Regions from separate parts of the Homo sapiens genome. Here regions 1, 2 and 3 are each reported to be linked to region 4. Evidence: microRNA targets listed by miRTarBase, many of them from high-throughput screens and not tested one by one. Region 4 holds a microRNA gene; each other region holds the end of a gene's coding sequence.
The links. The annotated mature microRNA hsa-miR-627-3p reads UCUUUUCUUUGAGACUCACU and lies in region 4 at 4,329-4,348, opposite strand. An mRNA with a match to its seed (bases 2 to 7 or 8) in the 3' UTR can be bound and repressed. Matches are read on the target gene's strand: a 7mer-m8 pairs with bases 2 to 8, a 7mer-A1 pairs with bases 2 to 7 and ends in A, and an 8mer does both.

Region 1 (7,126 bases), not on the chromosome of region 4:
GCTAATTTTTTGTATTTTTAGTAGAGACGGGGTTTCACCGTTTTAGCCAGGATGGTCTCGATCTCCTGACCTCGTGATCCGCCCGCCTCGGCCTCCCAAAGTGCTGGGATTACAGGCGTGAGCCACCGCGCCCGGCCTACAAGAGGTTTCTAAATGCACCAATCAGTGCTTTGTAAAAACACACCAATAGGTTCTCTGTGGCTAGCTGGATGTTTGTAAAATGGACCAATTCGCACTCTGTAAAATAGACCAATCAGCACTCTTTAAAATGGACCAATCAGCACTTTTAAAATGGGCCAATCACCACTCTTTAAAATGGACCAATCAGCACTCTTTAAAATGGACCAATCTGCAGGACATGGGCAGGGACAAATACAGGAATAAAAGCTGGCCACCCCAACCAGCAGTGGCAACCCACTCAGGTCCTCTTCCCTGCTGTGGAAGTTTTGTTCTTTTGATCTTCACAATAAATCTTGCTGCTGCCCACTCTTTGGATCCCTGCCGCCTTTAAGAGCTGTAACACTCACTGTGAAGGTCTGCAGGAAGTCAGCGAGACCACAAACCCACCGGAAGGAACAAACTCAGGACACACCAGAATGATGGTAGAGGTGATAAGGCATGAGACAGAAATAATAGGAAAGACTTTGGATCCAAATTTCTGATCAGGCAATTTACACCAAAATTCCTCCTCTCCACTTAGAAAAGGTGTGCTCTGCGGGACTATTGGCTCAGGGGAGACTCAGGAACTTCTTTTTCTTCTTCCTGCAGTGCTCTCATCTGAGCCCTTGAAAGAGGGGAAAAGAAACTGTTAGTAGAGCCAGGTTGAAAACAACACTCTCCTCTGTCTTTTGCAGGATTCCTGAGCTGAAATGCAGATGACCACATTCAAGGAAGAACTTTCTGCCCCGGCTTTGCAGGATGAAAAGCTTTCCTGCTTGGCAGTTATTCTTCCACAAGAGAGGGCTTTCTCAGGACCTGGTTGCTACTGGTTCGGCAACTGCAGAAAATGTCCTCCCTTGTGGCTTCCTCAGCTCCTGCCCTTGGCCTGAAGTCCCAGCATTGATGGCAGCGCCTCATCTTCAACTTTTGTGCTCCCCTTTGCCTAAACCGTATGGCCTCCCGTGCATCTGTATTCACCCTGTATGACAAACACATTACATTATTAAATGTTTCTCAAAGATGGAGTTAAATATCATCTGGTCCATTTGGCTCCAAAGACAGAAAATGAAAAGAAAAAGGGAAGATTATTTTCCAATAGAATAATGATTTTCATGTATATGTCATGAGTGTGTGAGGTAATGCGTATGTTAAATAGCTGGATTTAGACATTCCACACTATAGCCATATATCAAAACTTCATGCTGTACAACATAAATATACTATACAATTTTTACTTGTCAATTAAAAAAGTAATCCTAACATTTAAAAAGGCAATGCATAAAAACTGAGAACAGACTATAACAACTGAAACAAACTGGGCAAACATGAGATGAGAAACCAGCCAGCAAGTCAATCAGAACTCTTTCTTCATCTCGTCTACAATATTTTGTATTTATAACTGTAAATTAGTGTATAGTGTTTCACTCCAGAGACTTCAATAATACAGTGTTATCAAAGGACTTGTACAGATTTCAGAGAAAGACACATTTAGAAGATGGAGAGTTCTCCGTTATGTTCTATCTGAGAGTCAGTATGAAATGTCAAATCTAAAAGTACATAATTCAGAGGTCTATTTCAAATTAATAATCATTTGAGCATAATTTCTCCACTGTCAGAGACGACTGTTATTTTATTTTCAATCAAATTAAAAGTTGTTTTTATGCATATCTTATTTTTAGTTATATGTTACTTGTACATACGTAGCAGTACAAGTGCATATAAATCCTGTAAGAGTATAAATCCTATAGAAATATATTAAGCTGATAATTATGTCTGTTCTGTTTGATCACAGAGTTGCAACAAATAGGCCTCATTTCCTAAGTTGAGGAAATGATTTTCTCATTTTATATGAGACTTGTGGTGTGGAATTTCAAGGTAGAACCAAAATGTGTGGAATGAATATTTCAATGAAGATGCGTTCTGCTGCTAATAGCAGGAAATCCCATCTAGTGGCTTTATTTTTCTTTAACCCGTTATCTCACATAGCCGATAGATCCAAGGCTGGGCATCTCCAGAGTTGCTCAACTCAGCAGGCCAGTGGCATCACCAGCGACCCTGGAACTTCATAGCTCATCTCTCTATCACACACAGTATGTCAGCTTTCCTGAGATGGTAGGGTGACCCCTGCAGCAGCTTTAGGTTTGTTATTCTTTCACAACAACTCCCAAAGGCAGGAAAAGGATACTCCTTTCTCCTGTGTGCCTTTATAAGGAGCAACTAAACTGTTTCCAGAGTGTTCCCAGTACCCACTTTCTCACACATTGGAATGACCGTGGGATCACATGGGCTCAGACAAGCCAGGATTCAACCTTTGCAGAGTGGGCCTGAGGCACATGGGAAGAAAAGGAGCAAAATCATGTATTTTAAAAAATAAAGAAATGGTGGATGGAGTAGCAGAGATTGATTTCCGGGTAGGGAAATGATAGATTGTGGTACTATCAGGTTGTAAGTATTTGAGTTAACTTCCACATGAAAGCCTATAGATTCCTGATAGGCACCCTCAATTCAGGGTTTTGGGTCTTTATATGTATACATATATATATATACACACACACACACGTATATATGTACATATATACATATATGTATATATAGGTGTGTATACATACACACACATAGAGTTATTAAATGTCAGCCATTAACTCAATTACAATAAAAAAAAGCAAGCAAACAGGATTGATTGTTTGTACAACTCAGTTAAGTATGCTGACATGTTATTTTATGAGGTAAATATATTTTCCAGGGAAAATATTGAAAAAAAGTAGAATAAGGAATGATTAGCTCTATAAGGTGCTAAAACATACCATACATTTACTTTTAAAAATGCATTTGTTACTGATTTTTTAAAATTATATATGCTAGCAAAACAGAGTCTAGAAATAGAAACAGAAAGAGCTGAGATTTAGTTTCAGTTTTTGGTAAGTTGAATTCCAAATTCATTTCTTTCACTAAATAGATCCTGGATAAATAAAACTTGAAACATAAAGAGAAAATATAAAGTTCATAAGACAGATGCTATTTCTAATACTATCATCATCATTATAATTATGTTTGAAGACAAATAGACTTTCTAATTCCTTATGTGTTGCTGGTGGGAGTGTATGAGTCTACAAATACCTGGTAATTTGGCAATTTCTTAAAAAGTTTAACATATGTTTGCCCTATGACCTAGCAATTTCACTCCTTGGAATCTACCTAAGAGACATAAAAACATATGTCCTCACATAGATATGTGTTCAAGGGTTCAGAACAGCCTTAGCCATAGCAGGCCAAAACTGAAAACAATCCAGATATCCTTCAACTAGTAAATAGATAAACAAAATTCAACTACATCCAGGCAAGGCAATATCATTCAACAATAAAAGGGGACAAAAATAGACTTATCTGGCAGGGGAGATACCATAAACATGAGGGTAGTTTTCCCAAGGCAAATTTCAACCCTTGCACCCTAGATGATGAGATTACTTAATGGGTACAATGCATGTGATTTGGGTAATGGATACTGTAGAAACACTAACGTCACCACTATGCAATCTATGCATGTACCAAAACTACACTTGTACCTTTTGCATTTGCACAAATGAAAAAAGACAAAAAGAAATGAAAAGAAAACAAAATGATGATACATACTACAAAACTAGTGAACTTCAATAGTGTTAACTAAGTGAAGGAAATTGGATACAAAAGATTACATGTTGTATGATTTCATTTACTTGAAATATCTAGAAAAGGTAAATTTATAGACACAAAAAGCAGATCATTGGGTGCCTAGGGTTTGGGGTCTCAGTGGGACTTAACTATAAATAGAGAAATTTGGGACATGACAGAAATGTTCTAAAACTAAATTGTTGTGATAATTGCACAAATCTATTAATTTACTCAAATTATTCAATTTTACATGTACAATGAGTGAATTTTGTAGTATGAAAGTTATGCTTTAGTAAATCTGTTAAAATAATCCTTTTTAAAAAAATAAGACTTCATAAGCAAGACAAAATCCAGAAGACACAAATGAAAAAATATTTGAAGAAAATTACTGATTTCTTTGCATGAAGAAAATAACAAAATTAAAAGAAGTATATGATGCTCAGGAAAAATTTTGATCACATAAGGCAGACAATGGGCTTTCTTATGAAAAATTGTTAACTAATCAATCAATAAATTCATGGAAATGCCATAGACAATTGGGCAAAGGATATAGACTCACTATAGAAGAGAATATCCTAATAGTCGATAAATATATATATATTTGCTCAAACTCACCAATGAAGAGAAAAAGCCAAATTCGAACAGCAATGTAATAAACTATTTCTCCTACTCCAAAATTGGCAAGTACAATAGTTTGTTTTAACCTCAAGGATTTAGAAGATTCTAAGGGAATAGACTCTCCCATATTATTAGGATTTTAAGTTATAACAGTGTAGTAGTATCTATTAAAACTCAAAATACAATTGTTACGCGCTTGATGAAAACAACAAAAATCCCGTTGTAAACATCCGTCTTAAAGAACAATCCTACATGAGCCCAACGAGACATAAAATTGGTCGTTTGTTGAGCCACGGTTTGGAATAACAAAAACATTTCCAAATTCAAAAAGAAAAACTGATTAATTTGTCTTGATTATAAAAATTTTGTACATCCTAAAAACTATGGAGCATGTGAAGTGACAGCACACTGCAGGATGACATTTGGTGCTGTGTGGGGCACTGTGAGCATATATTGGTGTAACCCTTTGAGTAGTTTGAATAATACAGTATTTCCACTCTAGGTTGTTACAGTCTCGGTGAATTTTTCCTCATATGTCCATGATGACATATAAAAAATGTAACAGGGGAGAAAAGAAACACTATCTACATTTAGATAGAGAAAAGGTAAACTGTGGTATAACCACAGAAAGGAATAATATTCAGGGCTTTAAGTAAATTATGTAGGACTATCAACATGGATTGGAAAAAAATCATAAACCATAATGCCAGTTAGGAGGTGGAAAATTACGAGAATTGTCACTATTACTATAAGAGCAAACAGATATATAGACTAAACTAAATGGATAAACTGGAAAATAATCTTATTTTAAAAATTTTAACCAGCTGTGGATCAAAAAGTATAAAAATTCCAAATTCCAGAGATGAACAAATTCCACATAGGCGAGCAGGGTCAAGTGTCCACTCTTATTCTTTGGTCATCTACTGAATCTTAACATGGGAAGAAGATTGAGCCTGGCTGAGAAAGGGAGATTGTGAGGGAGTAAGGATAAACCAGCTGAGTTGTCAATAGCCCTGTGGGTTTGTGTGATGCATTACAATCTATAGAGGCCCCCTGAATAATATATATCTACTTTGCCCTGTCAGCTGATTCTCCTTCCAGAACTTTTTCTGACTTCATGCTGGTGCTGTGGGAACTAGGGAGGTAGATGGAAGACAACAAATATCTCTGTAGCTTCGTGCAAAGATCAGGAAGGAAATCAAGATAGGAACAATACTTTCCACCTTCTTGACTTAGTTGGCATTTATAATTAACATAAATTGACAACATCTGATAACTACAGAATATTTACTTATTTACGTTGCACAAAGATAATCCATGAAATAGAACAAATACTGTGACTATAAAACTAGTCTCAATTACTTTCACAAGAATAAAATCATACAGAGTATATTCTCTGAACACAATCTTATGAAATTACAAATTAGTAGGATTGAGAAAACGGCCTAAATTTTTGGAAGTAAAATAATACATTTCTAAATAATCTATGGCTTGTCAAAGAGGAAATCAGAAGGAAATTAGAAAATAATTTTAAATAAAATAATACTAAAATGAATTTTAAAAATTTTCGAGATGCAACCAAGGCAGTCCTTAGAGAAAAATATTTAGTTTTAAATGCCTGTATTATAAAAGGATAAATATGTAAAAATCAAAGGGGTAAAATTTTAACTTAATAATAAAAAGAAGCAAATTTAAGTTGAAAAAAGTAGAAGAAAAAGCAAAGAGGTGAAGAAATTGATAAAATTATTTTCTTGGTTTTGTTTTCTATTTGTTTATGATAGAGCATAATTATGTTAGTCCATTCCTACATTTCCAGAAAGAAATACCTGAGGCTGGGTAATTCATAAAGAAAGGAGGTTTCACTGGCTCAGGGTTCTGCAGGCTCTACAGGAGGTGTGGTGCTGGCAATTGCTTCTGGTGAGGGCCTCAGGAAAATAACAATCATGGGGGAAGGAAAGGGGGTCCTGCATATCACATGGTGAGAGCAGGAGCACAGAGAAAGTTGGGGAACAGTTGCAGTCCTTTAAAAAACCAGGTCTCATGTGAACTGAGTGAGAACTCACTCATTACAGCTAGGATGGCACCAAGCCATTGATGAAGGATCTGCCCCCCGACCAAAATACCTCTCACCAGGCCTCACCTCCAACAATGGAGGTTACATTTTAACATGAGATCTGGAGGGCACAAGCATCCAAACTATATCAGTAACATAATTGGTTTAATGTATACTGACTTTGTAATCAGCAACATTATTTAAATTCACTTATTAAATCTGTGAGCTTGTCTATTGTTTTTATTTTCTAAGTACCTGATTATGTCAAGAGTAAATAATGACCATTTTACCTGGATGCAATTATTATCTCTTTGATATATTTTTCTTGCCATTATTATTGCCTAACTCCTCTAGTACTCCTGATATGAAGGAGATAGTTTTCAATATTTCACTGCTGAGACTAATGTGTGCAATTGGGTAGCTATCATTTCTCAGATTGGAGAAATATCTTTTTAATACAAGTTTGAAAACAGGTTTTTTCAAAATTAAGGCCAAGTGCTCAATTCTGTCAAATCGTATTTCACGACTCTATCCAGGTGGTTGCATGTGTATTCTCCTTCCTTCAGTTAATGTCGTGAATCACACTAATGGATTCTCAAATGCTCAAACAACCTTGCATTTCTGGAATAACCTCCACTTGGTCATGAT
Region 2 (7,126 bases), not on the chromosome of region 4:
TGAGATTGAGAATGAGCATTAGCTGGGTCTAAGTTTCCTTACACAGGGCAGCTGAATCTTGACATTGTATTTATCATAAAAGTGATATGTTTATAGAAAATTTGGAGAAAATAAATATAAAGAAAGAAAATTACCTATGAGTTTATCTATTAAGATATAAACATGATTAACATTTAGTTTATTTTCCTTTTTGTCCTTTTTGCAAGCATATATATACATATACGTGGGATAAATATCTATATTAATTGAATTATAATTTTACTATGCATGTAATTCACTTGCACTGGTTTTGCTTTTACTGTGAACACTTTACTGTCATTAACTATACTTAGAAAATACTATTTTTAAAAAGTATATAATATTCATTTGTGGATATTATAATTAATTTACTATTCCCTCATTTTTTGATATTTAGTACTTTTAAAATAATGTTTAATTACAAATTGTAATTTAAAAACAAATATTAATTTCATTTAATATGCATTTCTTCATTTGAATTTACAGAACTGGGTTTATAGGCCCAAAAGGTCAACGAATTTTCCTCATTCTCAGAGGAGTCCTTGGTTCTACCGCCATGATGCTTATATACTATGCTTACCAGACAATGTCCCTCGCTGATGCCACAGTTATCACGTTTAGCAGTCCAGTGTTTACGTCCATATTTGCTTGGATATGTCTCAAGGAAAAATATAGCCCTTGGGATGCTCTTTTCACCGTGTTCACAATCACTGGAGTGATCCTTATCGTGAGACCACCATTTTTGTTTGGTTCCGACACTTCGGGGATGGAAGAAAGCTATTCAGGCCACCTTAAGGGAACATTCGCAGCAATTGGAAGTGCCGTATTTGCTGCATCGACTCTAGTTATCCTAAGAAAAATGGGAAAATCTGTGGACTACTTTCTGAGCATTTGGTATTATGTAGTACTTGGCCTCGTTGAAAGTGTCATCATCCTCTCTGTATTAGGAGAGTGGAGTCTGCCTTACTGTGGGTTGGACAGGCTATTTCTCATATTCATTGGGCTCTTTGGTTTGGGGGGTCAGATATTTATCACAAAAGCACTTCAAATAGAAAAAGCAGGGCCAGTAGCAATAATGAAGACAATGGATGTGGTCTTTGCTTTTATCTTTCAGATTATTTTCTTTAATAATGTGCCAACGTGGTGGACAGTGGGTGGTGCTCTCTGCGTAGTAGCCAGTAATGTTGGAGCGGCCATTCGTAAATGGTACCAAAGTTCCAAATGAAGCATCATTGCTGAAATACATATTTTTTTCAAGTACACCATCACCTAATTCACATACAGCATACGCACACATCTGGAAAATCTGCATTTTCTTCATTGGTTGTATTTAATAAATTGCCTAAAGTACCATTTTTGAATATAGTATGTCTTTAGTTAAGAATAGCTAGTCTGTTTGGTGTAACAATTTTTTGGTAGCTTTGGTTTTGGTTTTGGTTTTTTTTGTTGTTGTTGTTGGGGTCAAGTTGGTGAGAGGAGAGCTCATTGTTTGAAGAAAAACCAAAACATTTTATGGCTAGTAATATTTATGTAATTTTTAAAATGTATTTTTGGTACTGATGGGATATGGGTGGGGAGGCTATTTTAGATATTCTTTTAGCAGTGTAGAGCCTAAGAAACTTGGTTCTACTACCATGATCTTTATAAACTATGCCTTCCAGACAATTGATAATGCTGCTATAATTAGTATTATGTTGATAATTCATTTGCAACCTTATTCTATTTAGGAGGATGAAGTTGAAGCTTAGAATAGGTGCCTGCTTAATGGTGTTAATAATACAAATGAATTGGCCTTATTTTCAAGGATTTTATAAATGATTATCATACTTGTAACTCATATTTGTGCCTTTTCATTTTAATGCTGGAATTTTTATTATGTCACCTCTAAAACACTTAAATTGCCAAATTTGGCTAGTAGTTTTGTTTCAGTGGCATTAGCAACTGCAGCTAGCATACTATAATTTTAATTGTCCTCACTTTTTTTTGAAACTGCACTAAATTTTTCTTAACATTCCAAGATTTCAGATCTCTAAATCACAAAGAGAAATCTTGGCATGACCAGTGTGCACGTTTCCATCCTGAAGTGTTTTCTCTTCACTAGAAATGTGATTTTCTATAAATTCCCCTTGAATTTATAGTGTGATGCCAAATAAAATTTTCTCAGGATCTTATTAGGTTGAACCATATGTAATTGCCAAGATTTTACTATTTTAACTTAGAAAAACCATCGTTTCATATGATTCACCCTAATAGATACCTCCATTATTCTCTAAATGAAATAGAAGACTTTGGAGTATATGTTTTTAAAGTAATTTTTTAAAATATGGTAATGTATTAAACTTATTTTTATAGTTATGAAATTATGTGTAATAATGCTTTATGTTATACATTAAATGTAAAGACTTGTGAATCCATGTTTGATTGACTTTCATAGTTTCCTGCATTGAAATAAAATCACTATGAATTCTAGTTTATCAGCATGATGTTAAATGTCAGTGCCATACCATGATGCAGCACCATGACACTAACGCCATGAATTCAAACAGCACGTTTTACACCTGGAACTTCATCAGACCAATACTTTGCAGTTAGAGAGAATTTAATATCTAGAAAAGCTTGGGAGGTTAGTCAGGACTTAGGGAGTATACATAAATGGTTACTTGTTGTAATGAGCCCTTTATTGGTGAGGTTGCAATAGCTTCCAGCTCTTACTGTGTCAGATGAAGCATCTGTCATTATCTTAAGCCTGCAGAGTTGAAAGGTTATAGGCTCTTTCCTACCCTCTCATCATAATTTTTCCAAAGCAAAGAGGAACTTGGCTTCTGGGGTTCGTGCCTTAGTGAGAAAGAATCTTTTCCAATAGTTCCAATGGGGGAATTTTTGGCTTGCTGATTTTATCAATTGCCTTGACACCTGACAAACCCTAAATGAAGTCTATGTAGGTGAGTCATCTCTGTTCCACCTGATTTACAGTATTGGAATTTAGACTTGCAAAAACATCATTCTGCAAATATCTTAGATAATTACAGAATCAGGAGCATTTGAGAACTCTAGAGGTCTCAGAAATCATCACATAGGGGCCATGCTTCGTAGATAGGGATGATAGAGAGGAGACCTGCCCAAGTTGAATTTCCATGGCCTTCCTCCCTTCCTTAGTTCCATGATAAAGTATGGACAGTAAACCACTACTTGAGCTACCTAAGGTGAATTAACTCTCAGGGAACCCTCTTCCAGTTCTTTACCTTGCACAGTGAAAGAATCAGTGGCACCTAGAAAGTTAAATCCCTTTAGGCCCATACACTAGAGACATGTTTTGTTTGAACAATGTAGTTTAAGTACTTGAATGTCACACTATATAACTGAGGTTAGAGAAAATGTTTCTTCTAGCCCTTACAGGGTGTGATTCTTAAACACAATGTCCAAGGTGTATACAAGGATATGTATTGTAACAACTATGGGTATGTATATTTTGCAGAGCGTAGTTTCTATATCTTGAAAAGGAAAATATTTTCATAAATTGTTTTTATAAGTACTAATAAAATAATATGAAAGAAAGCTATATGTTGGTTGTTATGATTATAGCAAATATATAACTTATTTCCCTTTCAACCCTATGCTTCAAAATATATTTTCTGTAGGAGATTGACCTCTAGCCATTCAGCTGGGATATAATCTCAAAGTTTAAACTGTCTGACCCACTTGTACTATCAAGAGGGTCAGATGAACAGTGTAATCTGTTTATCTCTCCAAAATAAAGGCATTAGTCTTCTGTGTTAGTGAGACCTTCATTCTTCTAGATCCTGAGAACTTAAAGTAGCTTTGAACTCTGTACTTTTTGTTCCTGTAGCTAATCCGTTACTAAATCCTGAAGAGTCTTTCTTCTTATTGTCTTCTTATTGTCTTGTGGATTTATTCTTTCCTCACCATTTCCACTGCCACCATCTTAGCCCAAGACTTAGCACCTTACACCTGAATTACCACAACAGTTTACTGGTTACCTGCTTCAAGACTCTTTCTTCCACTCTGATTCCTGTCTCAGTGCCAGCTTAATGTTCCTAAAGCCCTGTTTTCACTGTTACTCTAGTTCTCATGAAACCACAGTGATGCCTTATTACACACCATATCACATCAAATTTTCATCTGGCCCTACTCCCACTTCTCCGACCTGATTTCTACATCCCAACACAAATGGGATACTCAGATCAGTCTTACCACTAGCTCCCATGTTTGCCAGTAGAGTCCTTCCTCTGCATTTCCCCCCTGTCCTTACCTTCTCTTATTTACCCTCTAAGGCCTGTTAGCCTCCAATGGCTCAGCTTAGGCTTTTGTTTCTTCTGGACTCTAGCTTCTCCTACCCACATAATCCATCTTGGAAGAGTGGGTAAAGCACTGGATTGGGATCTGAAGGTCTAGTGTGGTTTTATCACTTTTCAGCTGGACAAATCACCTAATGCACCTGAGCCTGTTTTCCTCACTTGCCCAGTCCCTCTTGCAAATGAGTGCCATAGAAGGGCTTATAGACTATTAAGAAGGATGAAAACATTAAGTATTGAACTGTGGTTAAGACTGTAGAATTGAGTATTCACTCTCCTCTTCAAAATGAGGCGTATACCAGAGTCCTTACTCCCGAGCAGCCTCACCAGGAACCGTAGGAACATGCCTATCAGAATGCAAACTCCATTCGGCCCCCTCCTGCTAGCACAGAATTGTGCTGTTGGCCAGCTTTCACTTCCTAGCTGATCTTCCCATATAGGGCTGCCAAGGATCACCAGTCCTTTCATGCGCAGGTGTTACCACCTTTCCAGTTCTGGCCCTAGCTCTGATCTTATATGGGTATTATGCTTGGCTCTGACCTGGGGAATGGGCCTGATTTATGTGTGTTTCCCATGCACTGTGTACTCAGCATGGTTCTTTTAGCCTCTTACGTATTGCACTCGGTAAGCATATTTACTCTCTTGAGGGCATTCTAGTGGGAAGAGAGCCAGATGTTCTTGATATCACCCTGGTCTCTGATCTAGGTGTGTATGGATCCATGGTCAATAATGGGCATTAGAATTTGGTTATATGGGTGAAGGTTGGATATATGAATCCTGGACACTACCCTAAGCATGCTGTTTTATGCCCCGTTTGGTGCCTTATATCAGATCTAATACAGCTACCATATTCACCTAGAATTCTGCAAGATAACCTATCAGGGACTCTGATCCACATTGATGGATCCACGGTTTAGCCTCTTTGAACATTAAGTTTGGAGCTGGACCTGGGAAAACAATTCACAGCCCATGAACCTTGGCACTTCTCATCTCCTGGAAATTCAGGGGTGGGCTTTATAGCAAGAGGGTAAGGAGAAGACATACTTGGTATCAAGGGAGGGCAGTAAATGTAGCAGAGATGCCCAGTACACAGGAAAACGTTCCACTGGGCTCAGGAAATGTCATTACTAGAGAAAGAGCCTGGGTCTCTTCCACTAAACTTTCATGATTCTAGAAACCATGTGAGATTAATACCAGTAAGCCTGATGAAGCAAAGGAAGTAACCTAGATTCATGATTAGTTGCCAGGGTGGGGTCAGGAAAGTATAAAACCATAGTTGAGCAGAAGTAGACTTGGGCAGGAGGAAATGTGTTCAGGTGAATGGTGCAGCATGAAAGTACCATGCCAGGGTTGGGAGCTCCATGGTGCAGCAGAAGTACATGGAAAGGCCAGGCCAGAGGAGTGCATTACTAACCAGAAGGCCTGTATCTGAGGTTATAAGAACCTGGCTGTTCTTACCGCTGTTCCAAGTATACTTGACCATGATTTAAGATTAAGCTGTATGTGCCAAGAACATACCAGAAAGAGAGAAACTAATAATACAACTATATTTGATTTTTTCTATGATTATAGTAGGTACTAGCTCAATAATATTAGAATTGAATTCAAAGCAATAGCATAATTCAGAATGGACTAACATTTTCTTTCTTCTGATATTCCCCCTGGGAAATCAGCCACATTGCTGTGAGGAAGCCTGGGCTACATGGAGAAGCCCACATGAAGAGGCCCATGTGGAGAGGAACTGAGGCCCTGACACTTGGCCCCATCTGCACTACCAGCTGATAGCCAGCATGAGCCTGCCAGCCAGGTGAGTGTGCACACTGGGAATGGATCCTCCAACTCTCAGGTGAGCTGCCCCAGCTGATGCTGTGTGGAGCAGAGACAAGCCCTCCTCCTACCTCCTGAGCTCTGCTCAAATTGCAGATTTGTGAGAAAAAGAAACCAGTTATTACTGTTTTAAGCCACTAAAAAAAAAATATAAACGATAAAATTGTCTTGGATATGTATGTACCACATTATACACAATCACAATTACATAAAGCAAAACACCTCAAAAGAACAAAAATCAACAAAAGGTAGGACATTTTCATGGGGTTTTTTTAGCCTGTGACAGATAAAATTCACAAAAATTAGATATATAGGGGATAAGAATAATAAAATATAATAAAGTTGGTCTAAACCAACTGTTTTCAAAGTGTGGTTTGGATACCTCAGAGTCCTCAGGACCCTTTCAAAGTGTTTGCGATGTCAAAACTATTTTAATAATAATACTAAGAATGTTATTAGTCTGTTTCACAATCATTCTTTCATAAGTATACAGTGGAGCTTTCCAGAGGCTATTAGACATGAAATTGCAACAGCTTGAATGCAGAAGCAGATAGGAGAATACAGCTATTATCTATCAAGCCAGGTTTGCAAAAATAAAAAGCAATGCCACTCTTCTCACTAATTTTTTTGGAAAATAGTTATTTTTTATTAAAGTGTTATTTATATTAACATATAATTACATTATCTTTCAAGGCCAGCACAGTGGCTCACACCTGTAATCCCAGCATTTCGGGAGGCCAAGGTGGCCAGATCACTTGAGTCCAGGAGTTTAAGGCTGCAATGAGCTACGATCGCGCCACTGCACTCCAGCCTGGGTGACAGTACGAGATACAACAGATGAACACACTTCCTGTTTATGTGCTTTAGTTCCTTTGTATGTGCATTTTAGAAAAGTCAGAAGTCTTTGGTACTTTGCAGCATGTGTGCATTGGTACAACTTCTAGGAAGGGCAATTTGGCACCATCTAT
Region 3 (7,126 bases), not on the chromosome of region 4:
TTGAACCATTACCTGGAAGATAAACCTAGCCCACCTCCTGTAAAAGAACTAAGGGCCAAAGTGGAGGAGCGAGTTCGACAGCTCACTGAGGTGCTAGTTTTCGAACTCTCCCCAGATCGTTCCCTGAGAGGTGGTCCGAAGGCTACTCGCAGAGCAGTTTCGCAACTGATCCGGCTGGGCCAGTGCACGAAGGCCTGTGAGCTATTTTTGAGAAACAGGGCAGCCGCTGTTCATACTGCAATTCGTCAGCTTCGCATCGAAGGTGCCACTTTACTCTATATTCATAAGCTGTGCCATGTCTTCTTTACCAGCCTTCTCGAGACTGCAAGAGAATTTGAGATCGATTTTGCAGGCACTGACAGCGGCTGCTACTCTGCCTTTGTGGTCTGGGCAAGATCAGCCATGGGCATGTTCGTGGATGCTTTTAGCAAGCAGGTGTTTGATAGTAAGGAGAGCCTCTCTACAGCAGCTGAGTGTGTAAAAGTGGCTAAGGAGCATTGCCAGCAACTGGGTGATATCGGACTGGATCTCACCTTCATCATCCATGCCCTTCTGGTGAAAGACATCCAAGGGGCCTTGCACAGTTACAAAGAAATCATCATTGAAGCCACTAAACATCGCAACTCTGAAGAGATGTGGAGGAGGATGAACTTGATGACGCCAGAAGCCCTGGGTAAGCTCAAAGAAGAGATGAAAAGTTGTGGGGTAAGTAACTTTGAGCAGTACACAGGGGATGACTGCTGGGTGAACCTAAGTTACACAGTGGTTGCTTTCACCAAACAGACCATGGGCTTCTTGGAAGAGGCCCTGAAGCTGTATTTCCCAGAGCTGCACATGGTACTTTTGGAGAGCCTGGTGGAAATCATTTTGGTTGCTGTTCAGCATGTGGATTATAGTCTTCGATGTGAGCAGGATCCAGAGAAGAAAGCTTTTATCAGACAGAATGCATCCTTTTTATATGAAACAGTCCTCCCTGTGGTGGAGAAAAGGTTTGAAGAAGGTGTGGGGAAACCTGCCAAGCAACTCCAAGATCTGAGGAATGCATCTAGACTTATTCGTGTGAATCCTGAAAGTACAACATCAGTGGTCTAATGCTTGGGTCTGTTTATATGTGTATATATGCAGAGAGAGAGCTTATATATTATTTATATTTATATTAAGTTGTATTAGCATACTCTATAGTTTCAAACACAACTTGAAAATTAAAAGTGCCCTCTTAAAAATACAAAAATCAAAAAGAGGAAAATAAGTTAAATTAAGCCCAAGTAACAAAAATACTGGAATTATTAAAACGTATAGTATGCTAGCTATCCTTTTAAATTATGCTAATTCTCTTCTTCTGAAATTATGGTCACACTATATACTATAGCATTTCGGTTTTATCCTTTGATAAAACTTTTCTTTTTTCTTTTTTTTTTTTGAGACAGGGTCTCACCCCGTCGCACAGGCTGGAGTGCAGTGGCAAAGTCTCGACTCACTGCAGCCTTGACCTCCCGGGCCCAGGTAGTCCTCCCACCTCAGCCTCCCATGTAGCAGGAACCACAGGCAGGCACCACCATACCCAGCTAATTTTTGTATTTTTTGTAGAGATGGGGTTTCGCCATGTTGCCCAGGCTAGTCTTTTCTTTCTTCTTTTTTTTTTTCCCCACAGTATATATTATACAGCAGTCATAATATCTATAAATACATAGAGTTTATGTTGTGAAGTTTCCCAGTTCACTGAAATGTTAGGTTTCCTAAAGGGTACAGTGCCGTATAAAACAACCTGCCTCATATATTTCTCCTCAAAACGTTGGACTATTTGGGAAAAGGAAAAGAGTTGGGAAAATTGGTTTTAAGGTAAGTTTTAGTCAAAAGAATTCTTTCTTGAAACTAGCTGGTTTGTGGATTCAGATACTCTGATCCTTACAGAATCCAAGAGGAAGCTTTCATAAAAACAATTCAGCAAATATTTCCAATATAATTTGAATGGCTAATTTTCAGTTGCTAATTAATTAGCAGCTTTGTAATACTTGATTTGGGAGCATTTACTTGGAAATCCTAAGGACTATAATAAAAGTTTTCAACATATTTCTAAATTGTGTGAGTTTCCAGCTGTAGCTTTTGTCTTTGTCACATTTTAAAAAATAATAAGCAAGACACATTGGGGACACTGGCAGCAGTTGCCAGGTTTTAGCTGCCACCGCTTCAGTATGAGATATAGCTGTCCCATCTTCCCCCATTCAGGGTAGGAGATATAGTGACCCAGACTTCATGCAAATGGAAAAAAAGTTTTAACTGAAATATTTATTTAGATTTCAGGGTCTAGATGGATGGGAAAGTAGAAAAACATATGCAAATCTCAGTGTTCTCACTATGACCACTCTGAGCAGAGATTTGGTTTTGTTTCCTTTTGTAACAAAGTGAAAACAGGTGAGACAATGTGCCCAAAACAAAGGGAAGAAGAGAACCTTCTGTGACTCCTAAAATGTTCCATGCTGCATTTTTGTTTCATTTTTTATTTTTCCTTGCTTTGTTTTTAAACATGAATATAATGCTTACTTCAAATTGTTTAGTAAAACAAAATAACTAAAGAAATGTGAGCTTCCCAAGGTTTCTAAACTATCGCTGTTGTATATTCTATAGCGTTCCTTATTCTTTGAGGGAAACTGTGCTTGCTGTGATCCATTTTGTCTCTAGCTTCTAGTTGTGATTCTTGTCCATAAGCACCAAATTTGATGCCCATGATTTCAAAAGGTCATTTCTTTTATCTGAATGAAAATGGTGGTACTAAGACTGTGAAAATTATGTGAAACCTAAAGTAGTTGCCAAAGTGGCTCAGGGTTGTAAAATTCATTGACTTAATTATTCATGTGCCAGATCAACCCCTTTATTTTCTCTTTAGCTGTGCATATTTAAAATATTGGAAAGTATCAGATTTACAGATTTTCTTTGACTAATTTTTTTCACATAACTTTAGGATTTTCGAAAGTTGTAACCATAACTGGATATCTTAGCTGAGCAAAGGCGGTTATAATTTGTCTTTTTAAGATCACTGGAAATTGATAAAATTTTGTGATAATTATGATTATTCTGTGCCATTTACAGTTTCTAATACTATACTGTATGAAATATGTATAAATATATGATGCTGAGTCTGTGGAATGATACTTCTGAAATCAAAATTCCTCATAAGGCATGAAGTTGTAAAAACTTGAATGTGTATAGTTAGATATTTAAATGGTTGCTTCTTCATAGAATTGTCTGCTTTTTAAAACTGGAAGTACAGGATTTTCTTCAGGTAAAATCTGTGTGTTCCAATTACAGTTGTAGCTGAAGGAAGTATGCTTTGGTGAGTCAATTAGTATGGGAACTTGACTAAAGACCCCCAGTGTTGTAACGTACCTTTGTACCCAGACAAAACAATTATGTTACATTCCTCAAAGTGGCATGGGCTTTCTTCTCTAATTCTTCTGTTTTATTAGACCCAAGACAAGTTCTAAAAATTGAATGCAATGAGAGATTGTCCAGAAATGTAATATATACTAAAATATACCACTTAAGCATTGATTGCCTTTTCTTGTTTGCTTCAAGAATATAAAACTTGTTACTTGAGCTTGGAATCATGGGCTTGATTGAATTAATTACTCTTGGGGAAAAAAGACACCTTGTGGCATTAAGTCTTGCTTTGGTTAAAGCCTTATTTCACATAATTGCTAAAAACTCATTTTTGTTTAATATACTACCTATAGTTTAATTATCGGCACTTGTATTTTGTAACTTGATATCTTACCTAGGATTGGGAATTTGGGACATGACATGTACTATAAAAGTCAGTCTATGTACATACTGCTTATTGATGTGCTGTGATATGAGGGAATCTGAAATGTTTCATAAAAATAAAGCTTAAAAATTGTCTTACACTGGATAAAAGTGATATTAAGATATTATATCTATTGCTCTTCTTTAGTTGGTATTCAATATTTTTATATTCTTGTTACTGAAATATTCTTTGAAGACCCTAGTTTTTTGTTTTATTTATGTGGGGAGGATACTTAGGAAGCTGTTTGCTAAATTAAGTAAGTGTTCTGCTTACCGTCAGAATTGTGAATAAATCAGATCTCAATTTTTTAAAATTCCCTCGAATGGAAAATTTCAGAGGTACAAAATGTGAATTTATTATAAAAAAGTAGATTTTATACCATCTGCACATCTCTAAATAAAGAAAATAAAATGTAGGCCACAAGACCTAGGAACTAAATGACAAGGCTTGGCCTTTTTTTTTTTTTTTGAGACAGAGTCTTCCCATATCGCCCAAGCTGGAGTGCAGTGGCGTGATCTCTGCTCGCTACAATCTCTGCCTCCTGGGTTCAAGCCATTCTCCTGTCTCAGCCTCCTGAGTAGCTGGGATTACAGGGGCCCGCCACCATGCCCGGCTAATTTTTTTATTTTTAGTAGAGATGGGGTTTCAACATGTTGGCCAGGCTGGTCTCGAACTCCTGATCTCAGGTGATCCACCCGCCTCGGCCTCCCAAAGTGCTGAGATTACAGGCGTGAGCCACCATGCCCGGCCAGGCTTGCCCTTTTGAAAGTAATATGTATATCCTGAGGAAACTATCACATATTTAAAAGTATTGAATGCTATGCTTCATATTGACTGTAATGTGGGAGTGCAGAAGAATTTTAATAATTTTAAACATACTTCGTCCTCTTAAGATGCTTAGAAATTGGAAAAAGTCAACAAATATAAGTGAGAGAATAATCAAATGCACAGCTGTGTACAGTGGAAATACCAAGAAGGAAGAGAGCAGTGTACTTTTAAGGAGTTTAGAAAGTTCTCATGGAATTGTTGGCATTTGAGCGGGTCCTTGAAGAATGGACAAGACTTAAATGTGCAAAGAAAATGGAAGAGTAGGACCTGAGCCCAAGGCACAGAAGTGGGAATGTGGGTGTCATATGAAGAGACCTTCCTGGATGAATTGCAGAGTTTGGAAAAGCGTAAATAAGCCACATTTGCCTACAAAGCAAGCTTCAATCCATATGCAATGTGCAGAAGAGTTAAAGTAAAAAATAAAAGTCCTCATCCCCCCAACAATCCCATTCACTAGAGGTAACTACTAGTAAGAATTTCATGTACATATTTTTCCAGAAATTGTATCATACTCTGCATACAGTTCTGCATCTTGATTTTAGTCACTTAGCAGTTCAGTGTTTTAAGACATCTCGTATCAGTACCTCTTGCTGTACCCCACTGGGTTTTTCTTCTGTGATTGGGTAGTTGTCAATCACAGTGAATGAATATATCATAATTTTGCATTTTCCAATTACTTGGTTGGCTTCAAGTTTTGTTGATTACAAAAAAAAAATTCTGAAAACCTATGCACATCCTCCTATTCGCTTATGCGAATATATCTATGGGATGTATTTTTAGAAATTGCTCTGCCAAATTACATTTTAAATTTAAGCATTACCAGTTGCTCATCAGGAGGGTTATATCATTTTTAAGTTCTCTCCAACAGTATAGGAAAATACCTGTTTACATGAATGCTTATAAACCTGTATTCATTCACTGTTTAATTAAGAGTAGCCTTGCCAAGCACAGTGGCTCAAGTCTGTAATCCCAACACTTTGGCAGGCTAAGGAGAGTGGATTGCTTAAGCCCAGGAGTTCGAGACCAGCCTGAATAGCATAGGTAGACCCCCGTCTTTACAAAAAATAGAAAAATTAGCCGGGCGTGGTGGCGCACACCTGTAAGTCCCAGCTACTCGGGAGGCTGAGGCAGGAGGATTGCTTGAGCCCAGGAGGTTGAGGCTGTAGTGAGCCATGACAGCACCACTGCACTCTAGCCTGGGGGACAGAGCGAGACCCTGTCTCAAAAAAAAGTCATCTTATTAGTAATAATATTCATTGTTACTAATCTTCTCTGTGAAAAAATAGCTTCTAGGTTGTTCTCATTTTTGTTTGTTGGTTGGTTTGTTTTTTGAGCCAGGATCTCACTGTATCGCCCAGGCTGGAGTGCGATGGTGCTATCATGCCTCATTGTAGCCTCAACCTCCCTGGCCTGGCCCAAGGGATCCTCCTGCCTGGCTAATTTTTAAATTTTTCTATACATACAGGGCAGAGGTTGTGGGGGGTGGTGTTCACTTTGTTGCCCAGGTTGATCTTGAACTCCTGGGCTCAAGCAATCTTCCCACCTCGGCCTCCCAAAGTGCTTCCATTATAGGCATGAGCCACCATGCCCAGCTTCTAGTTTTGTATGTAATTATGAGTGAGGTTGAACAACTTTCTTTTTCTATTAAGCTTCCTGTTTATATCTTTTGCCACTTTTCTCTTAGATTATATTTGTATTGTGATTTTGTGGGAGTTTATTGTATATTTAGGAAATTAACCCTTCATGTGTACTGCTGTAGTTTTTCTCAGTTTGTCATTTGTTTGTATAGCCGTTTATTTATTTTCATAGTATGGTAAATTTTAACCCGTTATGAAGCCAGATTTATTTGGGTTTTTTTCTTTATGACTTCTGTTTTCGGTTAGGCTTAAGAAGGCCTTACCCACTCTCAGATTCTAAAAATATGTTTTTCTTCTAGTAATTTATTATATTTTAATATTTGAAATTTGCTTCATCTATTATTCATTTTAAAGTAAGTGGTGATGGCCGGGCACAGTGGGTCACGCCAGTAATCCCAGCACTTTGGGAGGCGGAGGCGGGCGGATCACCTGAGGCCAGGCTGGCCAACATGGTGAAACCCCATCTCTACAAAAGTACAAAAATTAGCTGGGCATGATGGCGGGTGCCTGTAATCCCAGCTACTTGGGAGGCTGAGGCGGAGGCTGCAGCAAGCCGAGATCGTGCCATTGCACTCCAGCCTGGGCGAGACAGTGAGACTCCATCTCAAAAAAAAAATGTAAGTGATGATGTCAGAATGCAATTTCCCCACAAATAATTAGCAAATTTTCACAACAATTTTGAATCATCCTTTTCCCCCACTGATTTGAAATGCCACTGATATTTCTATTTCTGTTCAGTACCAAGCTATTTTGGTTAACTGTAGTTTCGAAATTTAATAACTGGTAGGGCTGGTCTCATTCTTCTGTCTCAGGTTTTTCCAAAGTACTCTCATCCCTTGGTCTGTGGGGAACCGGTCCT
Region 4 (7,126 bases):
ACCCTGTCTCTAAAATAGTACAAAAATTAACTGGGCATGATGGCACGCATCTGTAGTCCCGGAACTTTGGGAGGCTGAGGTGGGCAGATCACTTGAGCCCAGGAATTCAAGTCCAGCCTGGGCAATCTGGCGAAACCCCATCACTACAAAAGATACAAAAATGGCTCAGCCCAAAATCTCCTTAAGCTGATAAGCAACTTCAGCAAAGTCTCAGGATACAAAATCAATGTGCAAAAACCACAAGCATTCTTATACACCAATAACAGACAAACAGAGAGCCAAATCATGAGTGAACTCCCATTCACAATTGCTTCAAAGAGAATAAAATACCTAGGAATCCAACTTACAAGGGATGTGAAGAACCTCTTCAAGGAGAACTACAAACCACTGCTCAACGAAATAAAAGAGGACACAAACAAATGGAAGAACATTCCATGATCATGGATAGGAAGAATCATATTGTGAAAATGGCCATACTGCCCAAGGTAATTTAGAGATTCAATGCCATCCTCATCAAGCTACCAATGACTGTCTTCACAGAATTGGAAAAAACTACTTTAAAGTTCATATGAAACCAAAAAAGAGCCTGCATTGCCAAGTCGATCCTAAGCAAAAAGAACAAAGCTGGAGGCGTCACGCTGCCTGACTTCAAACTATACTACAAGGCTACAGTAACCAAAACAGCATGGTACTGGAACCAAAACAGAGATAGAGACAAATGGAACAGAACAGAGGCCTCAAAAATAATACCACACATCTACAACCATCTGATCTTTGACAAACCTGACAAAAACAAGAAATGGGGAAAGGATTCCCTATTTAATAAATGGTGCTCGGAAAACTGGCTAGGCATATGTAGAAAGCTGAAACTGGATCCCTTCCTTACACCTTATACAAAAATTAATTCAAGATGGATTAAAGACTTAAATGTTAGACCTAAAACCATAAAAACCCTAGAAGAAAACCTAGGCAATACCATTCAGGACACAGGCATGGGCAAGGACTTCATGTCTAAAACACCAAAAGCAATGGCAACAAAAGCCAAAATTGACAAATGGGATCTAATTAAACTAAAGAGCTTCTGCACAGCAAAAGAAACTACCATCAGAGTGAACAGGCAACCTACAGAATGGGAGAACATTTTTGCAATCTACTCATCTGACAAAGGGCTAATATCTAGAATCTACAAAGAAATCAAACTTACAAGAAAAAAACCAACAACCCCATCAAAAAGTAGGCAAAGGATATGAACAGACACTTCTCAAAAGAAGACATTTATGCAGCCAACAGACACATGAAAAAATGCTCATCATCATCATCACTGGCCATCAGAGAAATGCAAATCAAAACCACAATGAGATACCATCTCACACCAGTTAGAATGGCGATCATTAAAAAGTCAGGAAACAACAGGTGCTGGAGAGGATGTAGAGAAACAGGAACGCTTTTACACTGTTGGTGGGACTGTAAACTAGTTCAACCATTGTGGAAGACAGTGTGGCAATTCCTCAAGGATCTAGAACTAGAAATACCAGTTGACCCAGCCATCCCATTACTGAGTATATACCCAAAGGATTATAGATCATGCTAGTATAAAGACACATGCACACGTATGTTTAATGCAGCACTGTTCACAAGAGCAAAGACTTGGAACCAACCCAAATGTCCATCAATGATAGACTGGATTAAGAAAATGTGGCACATATACACCATGGAATACTATGCAGCCATAAAAAAGGATGAGTTCATGTCCTTTGTAGGGACATGGATGAAGCTGGAAACCATCATTCTCAGCAAACTATTGCAAGGACAAAAAAACCAAACACTGCATGTTCTCACTCATAGGTGGGAATTGAACAATGAGAACACTTGGACACAGGAAGGGGAACATCACACACTGGGGGCCTGTCGTGGGGTGGGGGGAGGGGGGAGGGAAAGCATTAGGAGATATACCTAACGTAAATGACGAGTTAATGGGTGCAGCACACCAACATGGCACATGTATACATATGTAACAAACCTGCACGTTGTGCACTTGTACCCTAGAACTTAAAGTATAATTAAAAAGAGTGGAAAAAAAAACCTAAAAAAAAAAAAAGAAAAAATCTAAGTAATGCTAAAAAAAAAAAGATACAAAAATGGGTTGGGCATAGTGGTGTGTGCCTGTGGTCCCATCTACCTGGGAGGCTGAGGTGGGAGGATGGCTTGAACCCAGGAGGTTGAGGCTGCAGTGAGCCAAGATAGCGCCACTACACTCCAGCCTAGGCGACACAGCAAGACCCTGTCTCAAAAAATAAAGGAGCAGAATGAAGCCTAGAGATGTCTATTGAGGAATGTTTATACTCATATTTTAGAATCAACCAGTTAAAAACACATTTATTGAATAATTACTAGGCTAGACATATCAGAGGATAAAAATGTCACTGGCTCAACTGAGCTCCAGGGAAATGACTCAGATCAGATCAGAGCCTACGATCCCTACCCCTAGTCTTTTCTTGACCCTATTATCCCCTCCCTTTCCTCAGAAAGACAGTCTACCCAAAGACCTATTTAGGCTTGAAATATCTCAAATCTGGAAACCAAATTAACCCTAGAACTAATTCACACGGGCCCAGGTCTATTTCTGGCCCACATCAGGCCAGATCTGGGCCAGAACTAAACTGTTCACCAAGAGTATAGGGAAAAATGGCATTTCTTGAAGAAAAGTTTCAAATCAGAATTTGATTTCCTAATTGTCTATATTTAATCTACCTATGGCGAAACCAAGGCCCAGGAACATTAACTAATTTGTCAAAGGTGACATGATAAAATGATCATAGGGCAAGGAATAGTCGCCACCAGGGTTCCAAGCCAGATTAACACTAATATTACCAGTTCAGGTCTATACTGTGTTGAGACTTCATTTATAAAGTCTTGTTTTCAATTTCTGATCACCACTTACATGTGAAAGCAAAGCAGAGAGTCAAAAAACAATTGTTGAATGCTGAATAAGATAAGCATTTTTAGCTTTAAAATTAAAATGTGAGCTTAATTTTAAAATTATAGACCAGGCAAATATCACAGAACGCAAATATTTTGGCTCCGAGAACTAAAAAAAGAAATTTTTTTTTGAGACAAAGTCTGTTGCTGAGGCTGGAGAGCAATGGTGTGATCATAGCTCACTGCAGCCTCAACCTCCTGGGCTCAAGCGATCCTCTCACCTCAGCCTCCAGAGCAGCTGGAATTATAAGCACGTGCCACCACATCCAGCTAATTTTTTGTAGACAGGGTGTTGCCATGTTGCCCAGGCTGGCCTCGAACTCCTGGCCTCAATCATTCCTCCTACTTCAGTCTCCCAAAGTGCTGGGATTATAGGCATGAGCCACTTCACAGGCCATGAGAATTAAAAATTTAAAACATTAAAACAAAGATCAACAATGTACTGCTCCAGGGCCTAACTGAGGCCTTTGCATGTTTTTGTAAATAAAGTTTTATTGGAACATAGCCATACCTATTCATTACATATTGCCTACAGCTGCTTTCATGTTACAAAGGCAGAGTTAAGTAGTAACAACACTGCAAAGCCTAAAATATTTATTCTTTGGACCTTTTCAGAACAAGTTTGCTGACCCTGATTTAGAGGACAGTTGAAAAACTTAGAAATGAAATAAATTATCTATTTTGTTCTCTGGTTTCTTTTCTTACCCTGCTGCAGAAACTGACCAGGATATCTTCTCTTTCCCGAGTGCACTAGTAAGGTGCTTTTTCCCCCAGTGTTACCCTTGCTCCAGGTTCCACAAGAGAGCTCTATTTATCTTAAGCTATCTCTTAAGCTATTTACCAGAGAAATATATATTATATTGAAGGGTATGAAATTAACTGCAGATTTCTGTAGAGTGGCTCCAGGGCATAATACCTAAACACATCTATTCTCCATAAAGAGAGCACAGAAACGAAAACAAGGAAGGGCAGTGAGGTACTTTCTGCCCCAATAAAAAACACTCTTTAACAGAATACATTTCAAATACTTTAGTTATTACTCTACATTACTGACAGTCACATTTGATTAGAACTTTAGTTTTCACAGTTTCTTCGAGCCTATTATTGCATCCACCCCAACAACTTTGTGGGGCAGAGAGTTTATAGAAAACTGATGTTGGAAAGAACTTGCTCACGGTCACGCAGCCAGGGGGAAGTGCACATGAAGGCAAACCCTGGTCCTCTCTTCTTGTTCTACCCCTCATAAGCCAACAAGATATTTTAAATCGATGTTGCCTAATTTTTTTTCCTACCACCACACCATATATACAGGAAGCTTATGCCCATTAGTAGTATTTCTTATTATTGGTAGTGAGTCTCAAAGAAAAGAGGAGGAAAACAACCACCTCCTCTTTTCTTAGAGACTCACTACCAGTAATAAGTAATTCAGTAATAAGTAAACCAGCAATTCATCCTCACCTCCCAAATGCAGGTAGGGCAATACAATTTGGAGGAGAAAAACCCTAGGCATTCTCAAGTCTTCTCCCCATTTTCCCACCGTGCTCCCTCTAACCTTCAATCTCTCTTTTAATGGTCCAGGAATAACTGATTTCACAGTTGTATACTAGCTGACTATTAAAACTTATTTTTTTGCATGAGCAATGTGCACTTACCAACGTCCTTCCGAATCCTATAGAGAAGAAGATGTCCTTGTTTGGTTCCCACAAGAAGCCATTCCTCTGGAAAAACAAAACAAAACAAAAACAAAAACAAAAAAAAACCAGCTTTGAGAAAGGTCAATCAGCTTGAGTATAACCCTATTTTTTTAGCTGGGGCTTGTAATCAGAAATCAATGTGTCAAGAAAATGAGTTGCTTTTGATAGGAGGTGTTTTGCAAAGCTAAGAAATGTTTATACTCATGTTTGAAAATCAACCATTTAAAAACACATTTATTGAATAATTACTAGGCTAGACATATCAGAGGATAAAAATGTCCTGGCTCAATTGTTTTAATGTTAAACTAATAAAAAAGATAGAAGGGCTTTGTATTTTTAAGATTAAATTATTATGATTTTTATTTTTTGTTATATATACTTTTATTAAGATATATATCTTCAGATATATATTTTTAAATTCTGCTAAAAAGAATATGATGAAAGTTTATAAAATCACAAAATGGAAGTACAAATGTGAAACCAGGTATCCAACCTCAGCAATAATAGCTAAGAGGCATCCTTTAAATGCTTTTACTTTCAGGAAAATAAATGACGTAACATAATAAGCTTACAGAATTCATTATCTCAAAAGATAGTCTAGTAGAAAATATTTAATAACAAGTGTTGATGAGAATATAAAGAAATTAGAATCCTCATACACTGCTGGCAGGAATGTAAAATGGGAGAGCCACTTTGGAAAAGTCTAGCAGCTCCTCAAAAGGCTAAACAGAGTTACCCTGGGACCCAGCAATTCCACTCCTGGTTACACACCCAACAGAAATGAAAACATATTCTACACAAAAACTTGTACACAAATGTTCACAGCAGTATTATCTGTAATAGCTAAAAGATGGAAACAAACCAAATGTCCACCAACTGATGAACGGATAAACAAAATGTGGCATGTCTATATAACGGAATATTAGCTAACAATGAAAAGAAAGGAAGTATGGATATATGCTACAACACAGATGAACCTAAAAACATGATGCTAACTGAAGGAAGCCAGACAAAAGGCCACGTGATTCCATTTATATGAAATGTCCAGAGTAGGCAAATCCACAGAGGTAGAAAGATTAGCGGTTGCCCAGGGCTGGTGGGCTTGGGGGAAAATAGAAAGTAAATACTAATGGGTACTGAGTTTCTTCTGAAAGTGATGAATATGTTCTAAAATTTATTGTGCTGATAGTTGCATAACTCTGTGAATGTACTAAAAACCATTTAATTGTACACTTTTTTTTAACTTTTATTTTTTTAAGATAGGGTTCTACTCTGTTGCCCAGGCTAGAGAGCAGTGGTGTGATCATGGCTCATTGCAGCCTCCACCTCCCTAGCTCAAGTGATCCTCCCACCTCAGCCTCCTGAGTGGCGAGAAATACAGGCATGCACCACCACGTTCAGCTATTTTTTAAAAAATGTTTATAGAGATGAGGGCTCACAATATTGCCCAATCTGGTCTCCAACTCTTGACCGCAAGCAATGCCCCTTCAGCTTCCCAAAGTGTTGGGATTACAGGGGTGAGCGACTGTGCCCAGCCAAATTGTACATTTTAAAAGATGGTCTAGGCTAGTGGTTCTTAAACTTTAGTGTATCACAATTATTTGAGAGTTTGTTAAAATACAGAATGCTAGGCTCTACCCCGGAGCATCTGATTTAGTAGGTTTAAAAGTAGGCCCAGGAATTTTCATTTCTAACAACTTCCCAGATGATGCTGATGCTGGTGGTTCAAGGACCACATTTTGGGAGGCACTGGTCTAGGTAAAAAGAGGCTCAGAAAGAGTTTAAATAATTACCCTGACAGACCCATATTACATCATTCAAGGAAGGTAAGCATGTACAGATACTTCCTTAGCTTTTTGATAACATAAAGGTCACTCATTCCTTTCATAAACTCTCTTGATTCTTGACCTCTGTAAAATAAAATCTTGGATAATGGTACAAATAGATAACTTTTATTGAGCATGTATTGTGTTCCAGGAAATGCTAAACGCATCTGTTATTTCACTAATCCTCACAACTATCCCTTGAAGTAAGTCCTTTTTTCAAATCCCCATTTTATAGATGAGGAAGTTGAGGCCTAGGGAATATATAACTTTTCCAGAGTCACACATGTGGCAAGCAGCAGAGTTGGGATCCCAACCCCAATTTGTCTTGATTCCCAACCACATGCTGTGATGTACTTACTAAGGCACCCATGTCAAAAAAAATGGGTGTCAGCCAAAGGTTGTCTGAATGGCAGTAGTTATATTTATAAAAACAGGTCAGCACCTACATTCCTTATCCAAAGGATCAATAGTATTTCTCCAGGATGATGTTCTTAGTCATCCAGAAAAACAGAGTGATTCTATTTTCTTTGATTTGGGGTCTTAAAGGAAAGGCAGGTCACACACAAAAAAAATGTTGAAATCAGAAATAACAGCAGCTCTAATGAAGGCTGGAGATTTATGCTGCAG

Region 1: the mRNA of HLA-DRB1 is a reported target of hsa-miR-627-3p. The part of its 3' UTR that is shown has no 7-base or 8-base seed match.
Region 2: miRTarBase lists SLC35G1 as a target of hsa-miR-627-3p. Seed matches in the 3' UTR shown: 7mer-m8 at 2,627-2,633.
Region 3: the mRNA of EXOC8 is a reported target of hsa-miR-627-3p. Seed matches in the 3' UTR shown: 7mer-A1 at 1,812-1,818.

The regions. Positions count from the first base shown.
Region 1 is chr6:32,572,833-32,579,958 of GRCh38, reverse strand. HLA-DRB1 (major histocompatibility complex, class II, DR beta 1) reads left to right here. Exons shown (of 6, transcript NM_002124.4): 6 at 855-1,184. The coding sequence ends at 868. It also overlaps the pseudogene RNU1-152P. Among named protein-coding and RNA genes, the nearest start is that of HLA-DRB1, 13 kb to the left of the region's middle.
Region 2 is chr10:93,900,248-93,907,373 of GRCh38, forward strand. It overlaps SLC35G1 (solute carrier family 35 member G1), which reads left to right. Exons shown (of 3, transcript NM_001134658.3): 3 at 505-3,577. The coding sequence ends at 1,243. Among named protein-coding and RNA genes, the nearest start is that of SLC35G1, 9.8 kb to the left of the region's middle.
Region 3 is chr1:231,329,534-231,336,659 of GRCh38, reverse strand. EXOC8 (exocyst complex component 8) reads left to right here. Exons shown (of 1, transcript NM_175876.5): 1 at 1-3,907. The coding sequence ends at 1,092. Among named protein-coding and RNA genes, the nearest start is that of EXOC8, 4.8 kb to the left of the region's middle.
Region 4 is chr15:42,195,265-42,202,390 of GRCh38, forward strand. It overlaps MIR627 (microRNA 627), which reads right to left and starts at 4,402; the gene lies at 4,306-4,402. VPS39 (VPS39 subunit of HOPS complex) reads right to left here. Exons shown (of 25, transcript NM_015289.5): 2 at 4,632-4,697.